Regions from separate parts of the Homo sapiens genome. Here region 2 is linked to region 1. Evidence: fine-mapped expression QTL. Tissue or cell type: whole blood. Region 1 holds a variant in brackets; the other region holds the start of a gene. All regions are shown on one strand. Distances are between the middles of the regions.

Region 1 (5,373 bases):
TGGGAGGAGACCCCAGGGAACCTTCTGAAGTGTTGGAAATGGCCTTATATTGATCACCAGTGTATACATATGTAAACATTCTCGAGGCATCCTCTTAAAATGTGTGCCCCTTAAGTGAAGCTGCAGTTTTTAAAATTCTAAATTTAGGCTCTTCCTTTCTCTGAATGATGGTGGGCAAAGCCTTTATGGGCCTCAATTTCTTCATCTGTGAGGTTGGGTTAATAATTAGTGTCACATCATTAAATGCTGCTTAGACTACAGGTCAGACATTGATCTGCATTCTCTGACTCTAAAAGAAAAAAAAAAGGCCAAGTGTGGTGGTGCACACCTGTAGTACCAGCACTTTGGGAGGCCAAGGCAAGAGGATCACTTGAGGACAGGAGGTTGAGGCTGCAGTGAGCTTTGATCACGAGACTGCACTCCAGCCTTGGGCCACAGAGTGCGACTCCGTCTCTAAAAAAATCAATTAAGGGCTGGGCGCAGTGGCTCACGCCTGTAATCCCAGCACTTTGGGAGGCCAAGGCGGGCAGATCACAAGGTCAGGAGTTCAAGACCAGCCTGACCAACATGGTGAAACCCCATCTCTACTAAAAATACAAAAATTAGCTGGGCATGGTGGCATGTGCCTGTAATCCCAGCTACTTGGGAGGCTGAGGCAGGAGAATCGCTTGAACCTGGGAGGCGGAGGTTGCAGTGAGCTGAGAAGCCGAGATCACGCCACTGCACTTCAGCCTGGGCGACAGAGCGAGACTCTGTCTCAAAAAAAAAAAAATTTAATTAAAAATATCAAGTCATTTATCCAAAGCAACCTTGTGGGTAGGGATTATTACTGCACCTCTGTTTTACAGATCAGAAAACAGAGGCACAGAGAGGTTTGGTAACTTGTCCAAGGTTAAACAGTCAGGAAGTGAATAAAAATTTTTTAAAATCATATTTTCTGAATTTATTTGTCCCTATAATGTTAGGCAGATATAGAAAACATAAACTTATTTTCCTAAGGAACTGAAAGGCTTTTTTAAAAAGGAGGGAAAAAACACCACTGAATACAATTTAGACATCCTCATTCATATTTTCAGAACTTATCCTTCTCCTCCTCCTTCCTCTCTTTTTTTTTTTTTTTTTTTTTTTTTTTTTTAGATGGAGGTTCGCTCTTGTTATCCAGGTATCCAGGCTGGAGCGCAATAGCGCAATCTCAGCTTACCGCAAACGTCGCCTCCCAGATTCAAGCGATTCTCCTGCCTTAGCCTCCCGAGTAGCTGGGATTACAGCCATGCGCCACCACGCCTGGCTAATTTTGTATTTTTAGTAGATATGGGGTTTCTCCCTGTTGGTCAGGCTGGTCTCGAACTCCTGATCTCAGGTGGTCTGCTCACCTCAGCCTCCCAAAGTGCTGGGATTACAGGTGTGAGCCACTGCGCCCGGCTTCTTCCTCATATTCTTTTGAGACAGGGTCTCACTCTGTTGTCCAGACTGGAATGCAATGGCATGATCCTACCTCATTGCAGACTCAAACTTCTGGACTCAAGCAATCCTCCTTAGCCTCTGCCTCAGCCTCCAGAGTAGCTGGGACTACAGGTGTGCACACAACACTCAGCTAATTTTTGTATTTAAAAAAAAATTTTTAGCTATGTTCTATGGAAAGGAATCTTTGTACTTTTTATAGAGATGGGGTCTTGCTATGTTGCTCAGGCTGGTCTTGAACTCCTGGCCTCAAGCAATCCCCTTGCCTTGGCCTCCTAAAGTGCTGGGATTACAGGCATGAGCCACCATGCTCGGCCAGTGTTTGCTTCTTTAGCTACTTTATTTTCTTCCCTCTGGATGGGACTCTGAAAATTAAAAGTTAAACCAAGAGCGGCCAGGCATGGTGGCTCACGCCTGTGATCCCAGCACTTTGGGAGGCAGAAGGGGGTGGATCACCTGAGGTCAGGAGTTCGAGACCAGCCTGGCCAACATGGCGAAACCCCATCCCTACTGAAAATACAAAAATTAGCCAGGTATGGTGGTGCACATCCGTAATCTCAATCACTCAGGAGGCTGAGGCAGGAGAATTGCTTGAACCCAGGAGGCGGAGGTTGCAGTGATCCGAGATGGTGCCACTGCACTCCAATCTGGGCAACACAGCAAGACTTTGTCTCAAAAAAAAAAAAAAATATATATATATATATATATATATGAAAAGATCCTGAGCTGGGGTCTGAAACCAGGCAGCCTGCCCTGCTATTTGCCCAGCTCCTGCATAGCTCATTGTGAGGACTAAATCATGCCAATGCATAGAAACTACAATACTTCACACGGTAGCCAGTAGCCAGTTACTGTCATTCTGAGCACCCACTGTATGCCAGGCACCAGGCTGAAATACTTTATATACATGTTCCCGTTTAATCATCTATGCCACCTTACAAATAACTTCCTCATTTTACTGCTGAGAAATCTGAGTCTCAGAAAAGTTGAATGACATGCTTCAGACCATACAGTACATGACAAAATCGGTAAATGTGACCGCTGCCTTCCAAGTCTGGAGAAAAGGAGGCGAAGAGAGGGGAAGGCATGAGGGGAGGAGAGAAGGTGGGAGAGGGAAAAAGGGGAAGAGAAGGGATGAGAGTAGGAGAGGCAGAAGGAGTGAGGAGGAGTAGCACCCCTCTGCAGTTATTTTCTTTTT[CT/C]TTTTTTTTAAATTTGAGACAGAGTCTCACTCTGTCACCCAGGCTGGAGTGCAGTGACACAATCACAGCTCACTGCAGCCTCCACCTCCCGGGCTCAAGTGATCCTTCCACCTCAGCCTCCTGAGTAGCTGGGATGACAGGCGTGCACCACCACACCTGGCTAATCTGGGGAGGTTTTTTTTTCTAGAGATGGGATCTTGCTATGTTGCCCAGGCTGGTCTTCAACTCCTGGGCTCAAGCGATCCTCCTGCTTCAGCCTCCCAGAATTCTGGGATTACAGGCGTGAGCCACTGAGTGTGACCAGGGATGGTCATTTTCCTCTGCACCTGTGCTTACCCTAGACAAGAAAATGTGGAAGGGAGGAAAGTTTACAGGCCATGAGCTGGTTAGAGTCAGGCCCGAGTCTCACTGGAATCTGGACTCTCTCCTACATTTCTTCCTTTCCTTGTCGATTTCTTCTTGTTGAGAGCAAAACAGTCCAAGGCTGCACAGGCTTGTCTGAGAGAGAAAATATGAGAGGAGAAAATTGTGGTTTTGAGCAATGGCTTTAAATTTTTTTAATAGTGACCCACAAGAGATATCTTTTATTTTATTTCTTTATGTATTTATTTTTTGTTTGTTTGTTTTGTTTTTTTGAGACAGAGTCCCACTCTGTTGTCCAGGCTGGAGTGCAGTGGCACAATCTCAGCTCACTACAACCTCCACCTCCTGCGTAAATGATTCTCCTACCTCAGCCTCCCAAGTAGCTGGGATTACAGGTGCATGCTACCACGCCTGGCTAATTTTTGTATTCTTAGTAGAGACACCATATTGGCCAGGCTGGTCTGAACTCCTGACCTCAAGTGAGCTGCCCGCCTTGGCCTACCAAAGTGTTGGGATTACACACGCCTGTAATTTTTGTAAAATACAAAAAATTAGCTGGGCATGGTGGTGGGTGCCTGTAGTCCCAGCTACTTGGGAGGCTGAGGCAGGAGAATGGCATGAACCTGGGAGACAGAGCTTGCAGTGAGCCGAGATCACGCCACTGCACTCCAGCTTGGGCCACAGAGTGGGACTCTGTCTCAAAAAAAAAAAAAAAAAAGTGTTGGGATTACAGAGGTGAGCCATGGCGCCCAGCCGAGATATCTTTTATTTTGTGACTGCAGTTCATGCACCCACACGTTGAATGGAAAACCTTTGCACAACACATTCTGACTTACTATATGCAGTGCCCTGTGGAATTTTCTAGACCATTTTTCCACCAAATATTGATCATGACCCATTAAGCCAATTTCACTGCCCACTAGTGGCTAAACAAGCCAAGCGGGAAAAATCTTGGTTTGGAGAGCAGTGTTTCTCAATTTTTCTTTCATTATTGTTCCCCTAAGGAGCCCTTTTTACACTTTTTTTTCTAATCGCTGCCTATCACGAAAGTTTAATAACACAGATATATTTATGTCTATTTACATATATCTTTTCCATATTAAAAAGAGTAAGTTTTTTGCCCCCTTGGGGGCGATATTATACCAGTTGAGAAGGCATCATTGTCCTAATGCTCATTTTCTGAGCCGCCTTTATTTATTTATTTACTTATTTATTTTATTTTATTTTATTTTTTTCAGATGGAGTTTTACTCTTTTGCACAGGCTGGAGTGCAGTGGCACGATCTTGTCTCACTGCAATCTGCCCCCGCTGGGTTCAAGCGATTCTCCTGCCTCAGTCTCCCAAGGCGCCCACCACCACACCCAGCTAATTTTTGTATTTTTAGTAGAGACGGGGTTTCACCATGTTGGCCAGGCTGGTCTCAAACTCCTGACCTCAAGTGATCCACCCGCTTTGGCCTCCCAAAGTGTTGGGATTACAGGCATGAGCCACCGTGCCCTGCCTCTGATCCGCCTTTATACACATCAATCCCAACATCCAATGAGATAGGATTAGTTCCATTTTGCAAGTGATTAAGTGGAAGCTGAGAGGTTATATTAATTATTGAAGATTGAAATGGCTGGCAATTAGACTGGGAATCCAGAAACTTACCAATATCCTAACTCAGCCTCTAGCTTCTCCAAACCTTTGTTTCCCCACAAAAAAAAACCTCAGTTATGGTCAGTTATGGGTGTTTTTTGTTGTTGTTATTGTTGTTGTTGTTTTTCTCTATTTGACCTAATAAGAGCAAACATTAGGCCAGGCACAGTGGCTCACACCTGTAATCGCAATGCTTTGGGAGGCCGAGGTGGGTGGATCATGAGGTCAGGAGTTTGAGACCAGCCTGACCAACATGGTGAAAGCCCATTTCTACTAAAAATACAAAAAAAATTAGCCAGGCGTGGTGGCACACGCCTGTAATCCCAGCTACTCAGGAAGCTGAGGCAGGAGAATTGCTTGAAACTGAAAGGCAGAGGCTGCAGTGAGCCGAGATCAGACCACTGCACTCCAGCCTGGTGACAGAGTAAAACTCCGTCTCCAAAAGAAAAAAAAAGCAAACATTTATAGAGCATTTACTAGACATCCGGCAGCAATCTAAGCCCTTTATATATATTAACTAACATAATATCCACAATAATCTTAAGACAGACATACTGGGGTTTTTGTTTTGTTTTGATTTTTGAGACGGGGTCTCTCATTTTGTCTCCCTTGATGAAGTACACTGGTACGATTAGCTCACTGTAACCTCAAATTCCTGTGCTCAGGGGATCCTCCTGCCTCAGCCTCCCAAGTGGCTGGGACTACAGGCTCT
Region 2 (5,373 bases), 35 kb after region 1:
CTGGGACTACAAGCGCATCACCAAACCTAATTATTATTATTTTTTATTTTTTAGGATAGACAGGGTTTCACCATGTTGGTCAGGCTGATCTTGAATTCCTGACCTCAGGTGATCCACCTGCCTCGGCTGCCCAAAGTGCTGGGATTACAGGTGTGAGCCACCACACACAGCCAGGTTCAAATTTCTTTCTTTTTTTTTTTTGAGACAGAGTCTCGCTCTGTTGCCCAGGCTGGAGTCCAGTGACGCAATCTTGGCTCGCTGCACGCTCTGCCTCCTGGGTTCACGCCATTCTCCTGCCTCAGCCTCCCAAGTAGCTGGGACTACAGGCGCCCGCCACCACGCCCAGCTATTTTTTTGTATTTTTAGTAGAGACGGGGTTTCACTATGTTAGCCAGGATGGTCTCGATCTCCTGATCTCGTGATCCGCCCGCCTCAGCCTCCCAAAGTGCTGGGATTACAGGCGTCAGCCACCGCGCCCAGCCCAAGTTTCTTATTCTTTTTGTTTATAGACTGGGTCTCACTCTGTTGCCCAGCCTGGTCTTGAACTCCTGGGCTTAAGTGATTCGCCTCGGCCTCCCAAAGTGCTGGGATTACATGCTTGAGCCACCACACCTAGCCCCGGATTCAAATTTCAGTGTAACATCCCCAATCCACTGTTATACAAGCAATGAACAAGTTATTTAACCCCTCTGAGCCAGTTTCCTCCTCTTAAAAAAGGCACAAAACTTAATAGAAAGCAACTAAGAAGCCAGGCACGGTGGCTCAAGCTGGTAATCCCAGCACTTTCCGAGGCCGAGGAGAGTGGATCACCTGAGGTCAGGAGTTCGAGACCAGCCTGACCAAAATGGTGAAACCCCGTCTCTATTAAAAATGCAAAAATTAGCTGGGCGTGGTGACGGGTGCTTGTAATCCCAGCTACTCAGGTGGCTGAGGCAGGAGAATTGCTTGAACCCAGGAGGCGGAGGTTGCGGTTTGCCAAAATCGCTCCACTGCACTCCCGCCTGGGCGACAAGAGCAAGGAAGGCTCTGTCTTAAAAAAATAAATAAATGAAAATACAAAAATTAGCCAGGCGTCGTGGCACATGCCTGTAATCCCAGCTACTTGGGAGGCTGAGGCAGGAGAATCGCTTGAACCTGGGAGGCGGAGGTTGCAGTGAGCCGAGATTGTGCCACTGCACTCCAGTCGGGGTGAAAAAGCAAGACTCCGTCTCAAAAAAAAAAAAAAAAAAAAAAAAAGAGGCCGGGCACGGTGGTACACGCCTGTGGTACAGCACTTTGGGAGGCTGAGGCAGGTGGATCATGAGGTCAGGAGATCGAGACCATCCTGGCTAACACGGTGAAACCCCGTCTCCACTAAAAAATACAAAAAAATTAGCCGGGCCTGGTGGCGGGCGCCTGTAGTCCCAGCTATTCAGGAGGCAGAGGCAAGAGAATGGCGTGAACCCGGGAGGCGGAGCTTGCAGTGAGCCGAGATGGCGCCACTGGACTGCAGCCTGGGCGACAGAGCGAGAGAGTGAGACTCTGTCTCAAAAAGAAAAACGGAAGCAACTAAGAAATGTCAAGAGTGCCATTTTGGAATCAGAGAAGTCATGCTGACTGAGGCACAGGCTTGGCGTGGGAAAAGTGGACTCCAATCTGTTAACTTCTGAAGTTGTCCACGGCAAATATTTCTCTGACGGCACAGGAAGAGATCTGAACTTGGCTTCCCTCATCCATTGAACAAGTATTAACAAGTATCTATATATGCCTACCGTGCCAGGCCTTATTCTAACCACTGGGGCTGCAATATTTAAAAAGACAAAGTTGGATCCTCCAAGGACTGTGGTGGGGAAGGCTGACAAAACAAGTAACAAAAATGTGTAACATTAAAAAAAAAGTGTAATGTTAAAAAAAAAAAGTGTAATAAAGTTACAAAGCCTAGCCCCAGCTCGGCTTGTTTCCCTAGCTGAAATGGGGGATGGCCGGGCGCGGTGGCTCACGCCTGTAATCCCAGCACTTTGGGAGGCCCGAGGCGGGAAGATAGCTTGTGCCCAGGAGTTCGAGGTCACAGTGACCTATGATAGCCCCACCGACTCCAGCCTGAGCGATAGAGCGAGACCCTGTCTCTAATTTAGAAAAAAGAAAGTTGTGGCCGGGCGCGGTGGCTCACGCCTGTAATCCCAGCACTTTGGGAGGCCGAAGGGTGGTGGTGGGTGGGGGCGCGGATCACCTGAGGTAGGGAGTTAGAGACCAGCCTGACCAACATGGAGAAACCCCGTCTCTATTAAAAATACAAAATTAGCCCAGCGTGGTAGCGCATGCCTGTAATCCCAGCTACTCAGGAGGCTGAGGCAGGAGAATTGCTGGAACCCGGGAGGCGGAAGTTGCGGTGAGCCGAGTTCGTGCCATTGCACCCCGGCCTGGGCAACAGCAAAACTCCGTCTCAAAAAAAGAAAAGACAGTTGTTTAAACATTTTTATGAAATGATATGGGAGGGGACTGGTCTAGGGTTTCTAATAGCCTCCACATCGCCCAGCGGCAGAGCCCACAAAACTGCCACTGGCCGCCACCGGGTTCCTCCACCTCCTTCCCGATCTCAGGCTGGAGAAGTGGTGCAGGGGTCGCTGCGAAAGGAGAGGAGCGTGTATGACGCCACATCCGGCGCGCGGCGGAACTGGCCTCCTTTGCTTCCGCGGCGGGGCCGGAAGTAGGAGCGGCGGCGGCGGCGGCGGCGGCGGTCGAAAGCGGAGTGAAAGAGGGAGGCAGGGAGCCGGAGAGCCGGAACCGGAGTCGCAGCGGCGGTAATAGTGCGAGACTCCTCTAAGTCACCGTCCTTAGCGCGGGACCGCGGGGTTCGACGGGAGTTAGCGGGGGTGCGGCCAGGCCGTTGGACGCCGGGGGGTCCTGGGGCCGATGTGAGGGGAGGCGGGGGTGGGGGAGCCGGGCCGGCTCTAGAATCGAGTTGTCCGCTCCGAGCCCCGGACGGACACTGATCCGCGGGCTCGTCTTGGCCTTTCCCAGGAGACCCCTGTGCGGTGCGGAGGGGGCGGCGGCCCCGACTCTGACCCGCGCCGGGGGTGGGCCATGGCGGAGATCAGCGACCTGGACCGGCAGATCGAGCAGCTGCGTCGCTGCGAGCTCATCAAGGAGAGCGAAGTCAAGGCCCTGTGCGCTAAGGCCAGGTGAGCTCGTTGGCCCTGGGGAAGGGAGGCCAAGCCGCCGCCCACGGGTTCTGGCCTGGGGCAAACCCAACTGAGAACTTTGGGCTTGCCTCGTTCTGGAAGCTTTCCCAGAGAGGAGCAGGATGGAGCCGCTGCCCTCGAGGAAAAGCTAGCCTGCTCGGGGAAGACAGAGTGGATAAAGACACTTAAAGTTTATTAGACGATGTGTTTCCAGTGGAGTAAGAGTGTTACATAAAGTACTTAGGAAACTCAAGGAAACAAGTCCATCTGTCGGGGGACGGAAGCTTGTTGGAGGGGGGCCGAACTGTGGGAGAGGCCTCGAATAAGGAGGTGGTAAAAGAGTCAGCCAAAAACCAAAAGTTTAAGACAGGAAAGTTAAAGACCCTGTGATTTATAAAAGTCTTCTAATTACAACAACCCTTAAAGATTGGTGGTATTGTACTCATTTTACAGGTGGGAACTTTCATGTTCAAAGTTACCCACAAGTAAGGAATGGGGTCTGAAGCCAGCTCTTAGTGTCCTGTCCTTTTTCAGGCCATAATGCAAAAAGGTGGAGTTGGATCATTCACGTTCAGGGTGGGAGCCTGAGAAATCGTAGCAAGTAAGCCAGGGTAGAATTAAGCACGATAGGGAGGCCAGTTCAGAGTTCTGTGGGAAGTAGGATGATGTAGTGGTTAAGGCTCTAGGTTTTGCAGTGTGAGATGGCTCTAGGTTTGAATCTGAACTCTGCCGCTTTCTAGCTGTGTTAGTAATCTTAAGTGTCTTTATTTGTAAAGCAGAATTAATAGTACTTAATAAGATGATTGTGAAGATTCAGTGAGTTGGTGCTGGAGATGAGGTTAGCACAGTGTTTTGGTACAGCATACGTGCTTGATAATCACCAGGTATTCTATTTCTTTTGGAAGAGGGCAATAATGAGATGGGCTAAAGCCATCAGGGAGGGCTTTTGAGTGGAGGTAGGCCTTGAAGGATGAAGATAATTTGGCTAGCTGATGGAGGCAGGGCCAGTGAGGGAAGGGCATTCCAAGCAGGACGAATGTAACAGTGGAGGCCCTGAGATGCGTGGGGAACAGTCAGGGGTTTAATTACCTGCCTCCTCTGGGGAACTGTGTGATTGTGGCTTCTACCAGGCTGGAGAATTGTGGCAGAAGAGCCCACAGAATTACCCTACGTTTATTGAACAGTAAACATTGGCCTTTACAGGGCCACTATTTGGCCTGGCCCGGTACTGGCAAAAAACTTCTATCCATCTCTTCCCCCCAGCAATCCTATGAGGTTGGAATCATTTGCTGCATTTTATCGAATAGGAAGCCATGACTCGTAGAGGTCTGGTGACTTAACTGAGGTCACCCACTGAGGACGTGGCAGAGCTGGGTCCTGAATCTGTGGCCCTCAGGCTCTTTGCCTGGCCCTGCCTCACATAGACTACCTGCAGCCAGACAGGGCCTGTGAGGGGATGATGAGCAGGGTCGGCCTCTTTTTCGCCACCTGTCTGTGGCTTTTCTCTTTTGCCAGCTGACCAGACCAGCCCCATGGTGTTTTTAGTTGTCCCCTTTCCCTCAGTCCTGATTGGCATTTTTAGGAACTTAAACCTGTTGTTGCCTGGCACTATTCTTTAACCTCGAAGTATTGTCTCCCTCACGGGCCCTGGATCAGTGTGGTGGTGATGGTAGACAAAGCTTAGATAGCATGCTGGAGTTTGCAGAATAGCAGGAAGTCGTATATTCAGTCTCCATGGCTCCTTGCAACAGCCTAAGGAATACGCAGGGTGGGCTGAGTACTTAGCCCCATTTCATAGCAGAGGAAACTGAGCCTTTGAGTAGATAATGTCTTGCCCAACATCACGCAGCTAGTCGGAGGGGAAGTTAGTTTTGCATCCAGGTCTTTGACTGTGCTCCGTGGTCACTGAGAGCCAGGCAGAGGCATTTAGATTTTGATGTGGGGTGTGAGGCAGCAGGAAGCCATGGAAGGCTGAGGGGTGGAGGGTCCTGCCCAGTTGAAACTGAGTGGAACTAGGAGGTACTAGGCCAAGGCCTGAGTTGGCCGCTGTTGTCCCAGGCTCAGTCTGAAGCAGGGCCATCTCTGATACCTGGTTATGGCCTCCTGGGGACCCATCAGAGACCCAGGCTGAGGCTGGTGGTGTCAAGAGCACCAGCTTGCCTAGAGGGCACAGACATGCAGATGAAACCAGTGGAAGCACAGAGGTCCGCAG

What was found. PIP is the estimated chance that this variant, and not a neighbour inherited with it, causes the effect.
Region 2: PPP4C starts here. The variant in region 1 is the best candidate, but not a certain one, in a credible set for the expression of PPP4C in whole blood (TOPMed, PIP 0.60).

The regions. Positions count from the first base shown.
Region 1 is chr16:30,037,999-30,043,371 of GRCh38, forward strand. It overlaps a transcript of TLCD3B not described here. Among named protein-coding and RNA genes, the nearest start is that of TLCD3B, 9.4 kb to the left of the region's middle. The variant CT/C (reference allele first, on the strand shown) is at 2,660.
Region 2 is chr16:30,073,315-30,078,687 of GRCh38, forward strand. PPP4C (protein phosphatase 4 catalytic subunit) reads left to right here and starts at 2,680. Exons shown (of 9, transcript NM_002720.3): 1 at 2,680-2,780; 2 at 3,001-3,161. The coding sequence starts at 3,064. RefSeq lists enhancers at 1,402-1,581, 3,204-3,293 and a silencer at 2,954-3,093.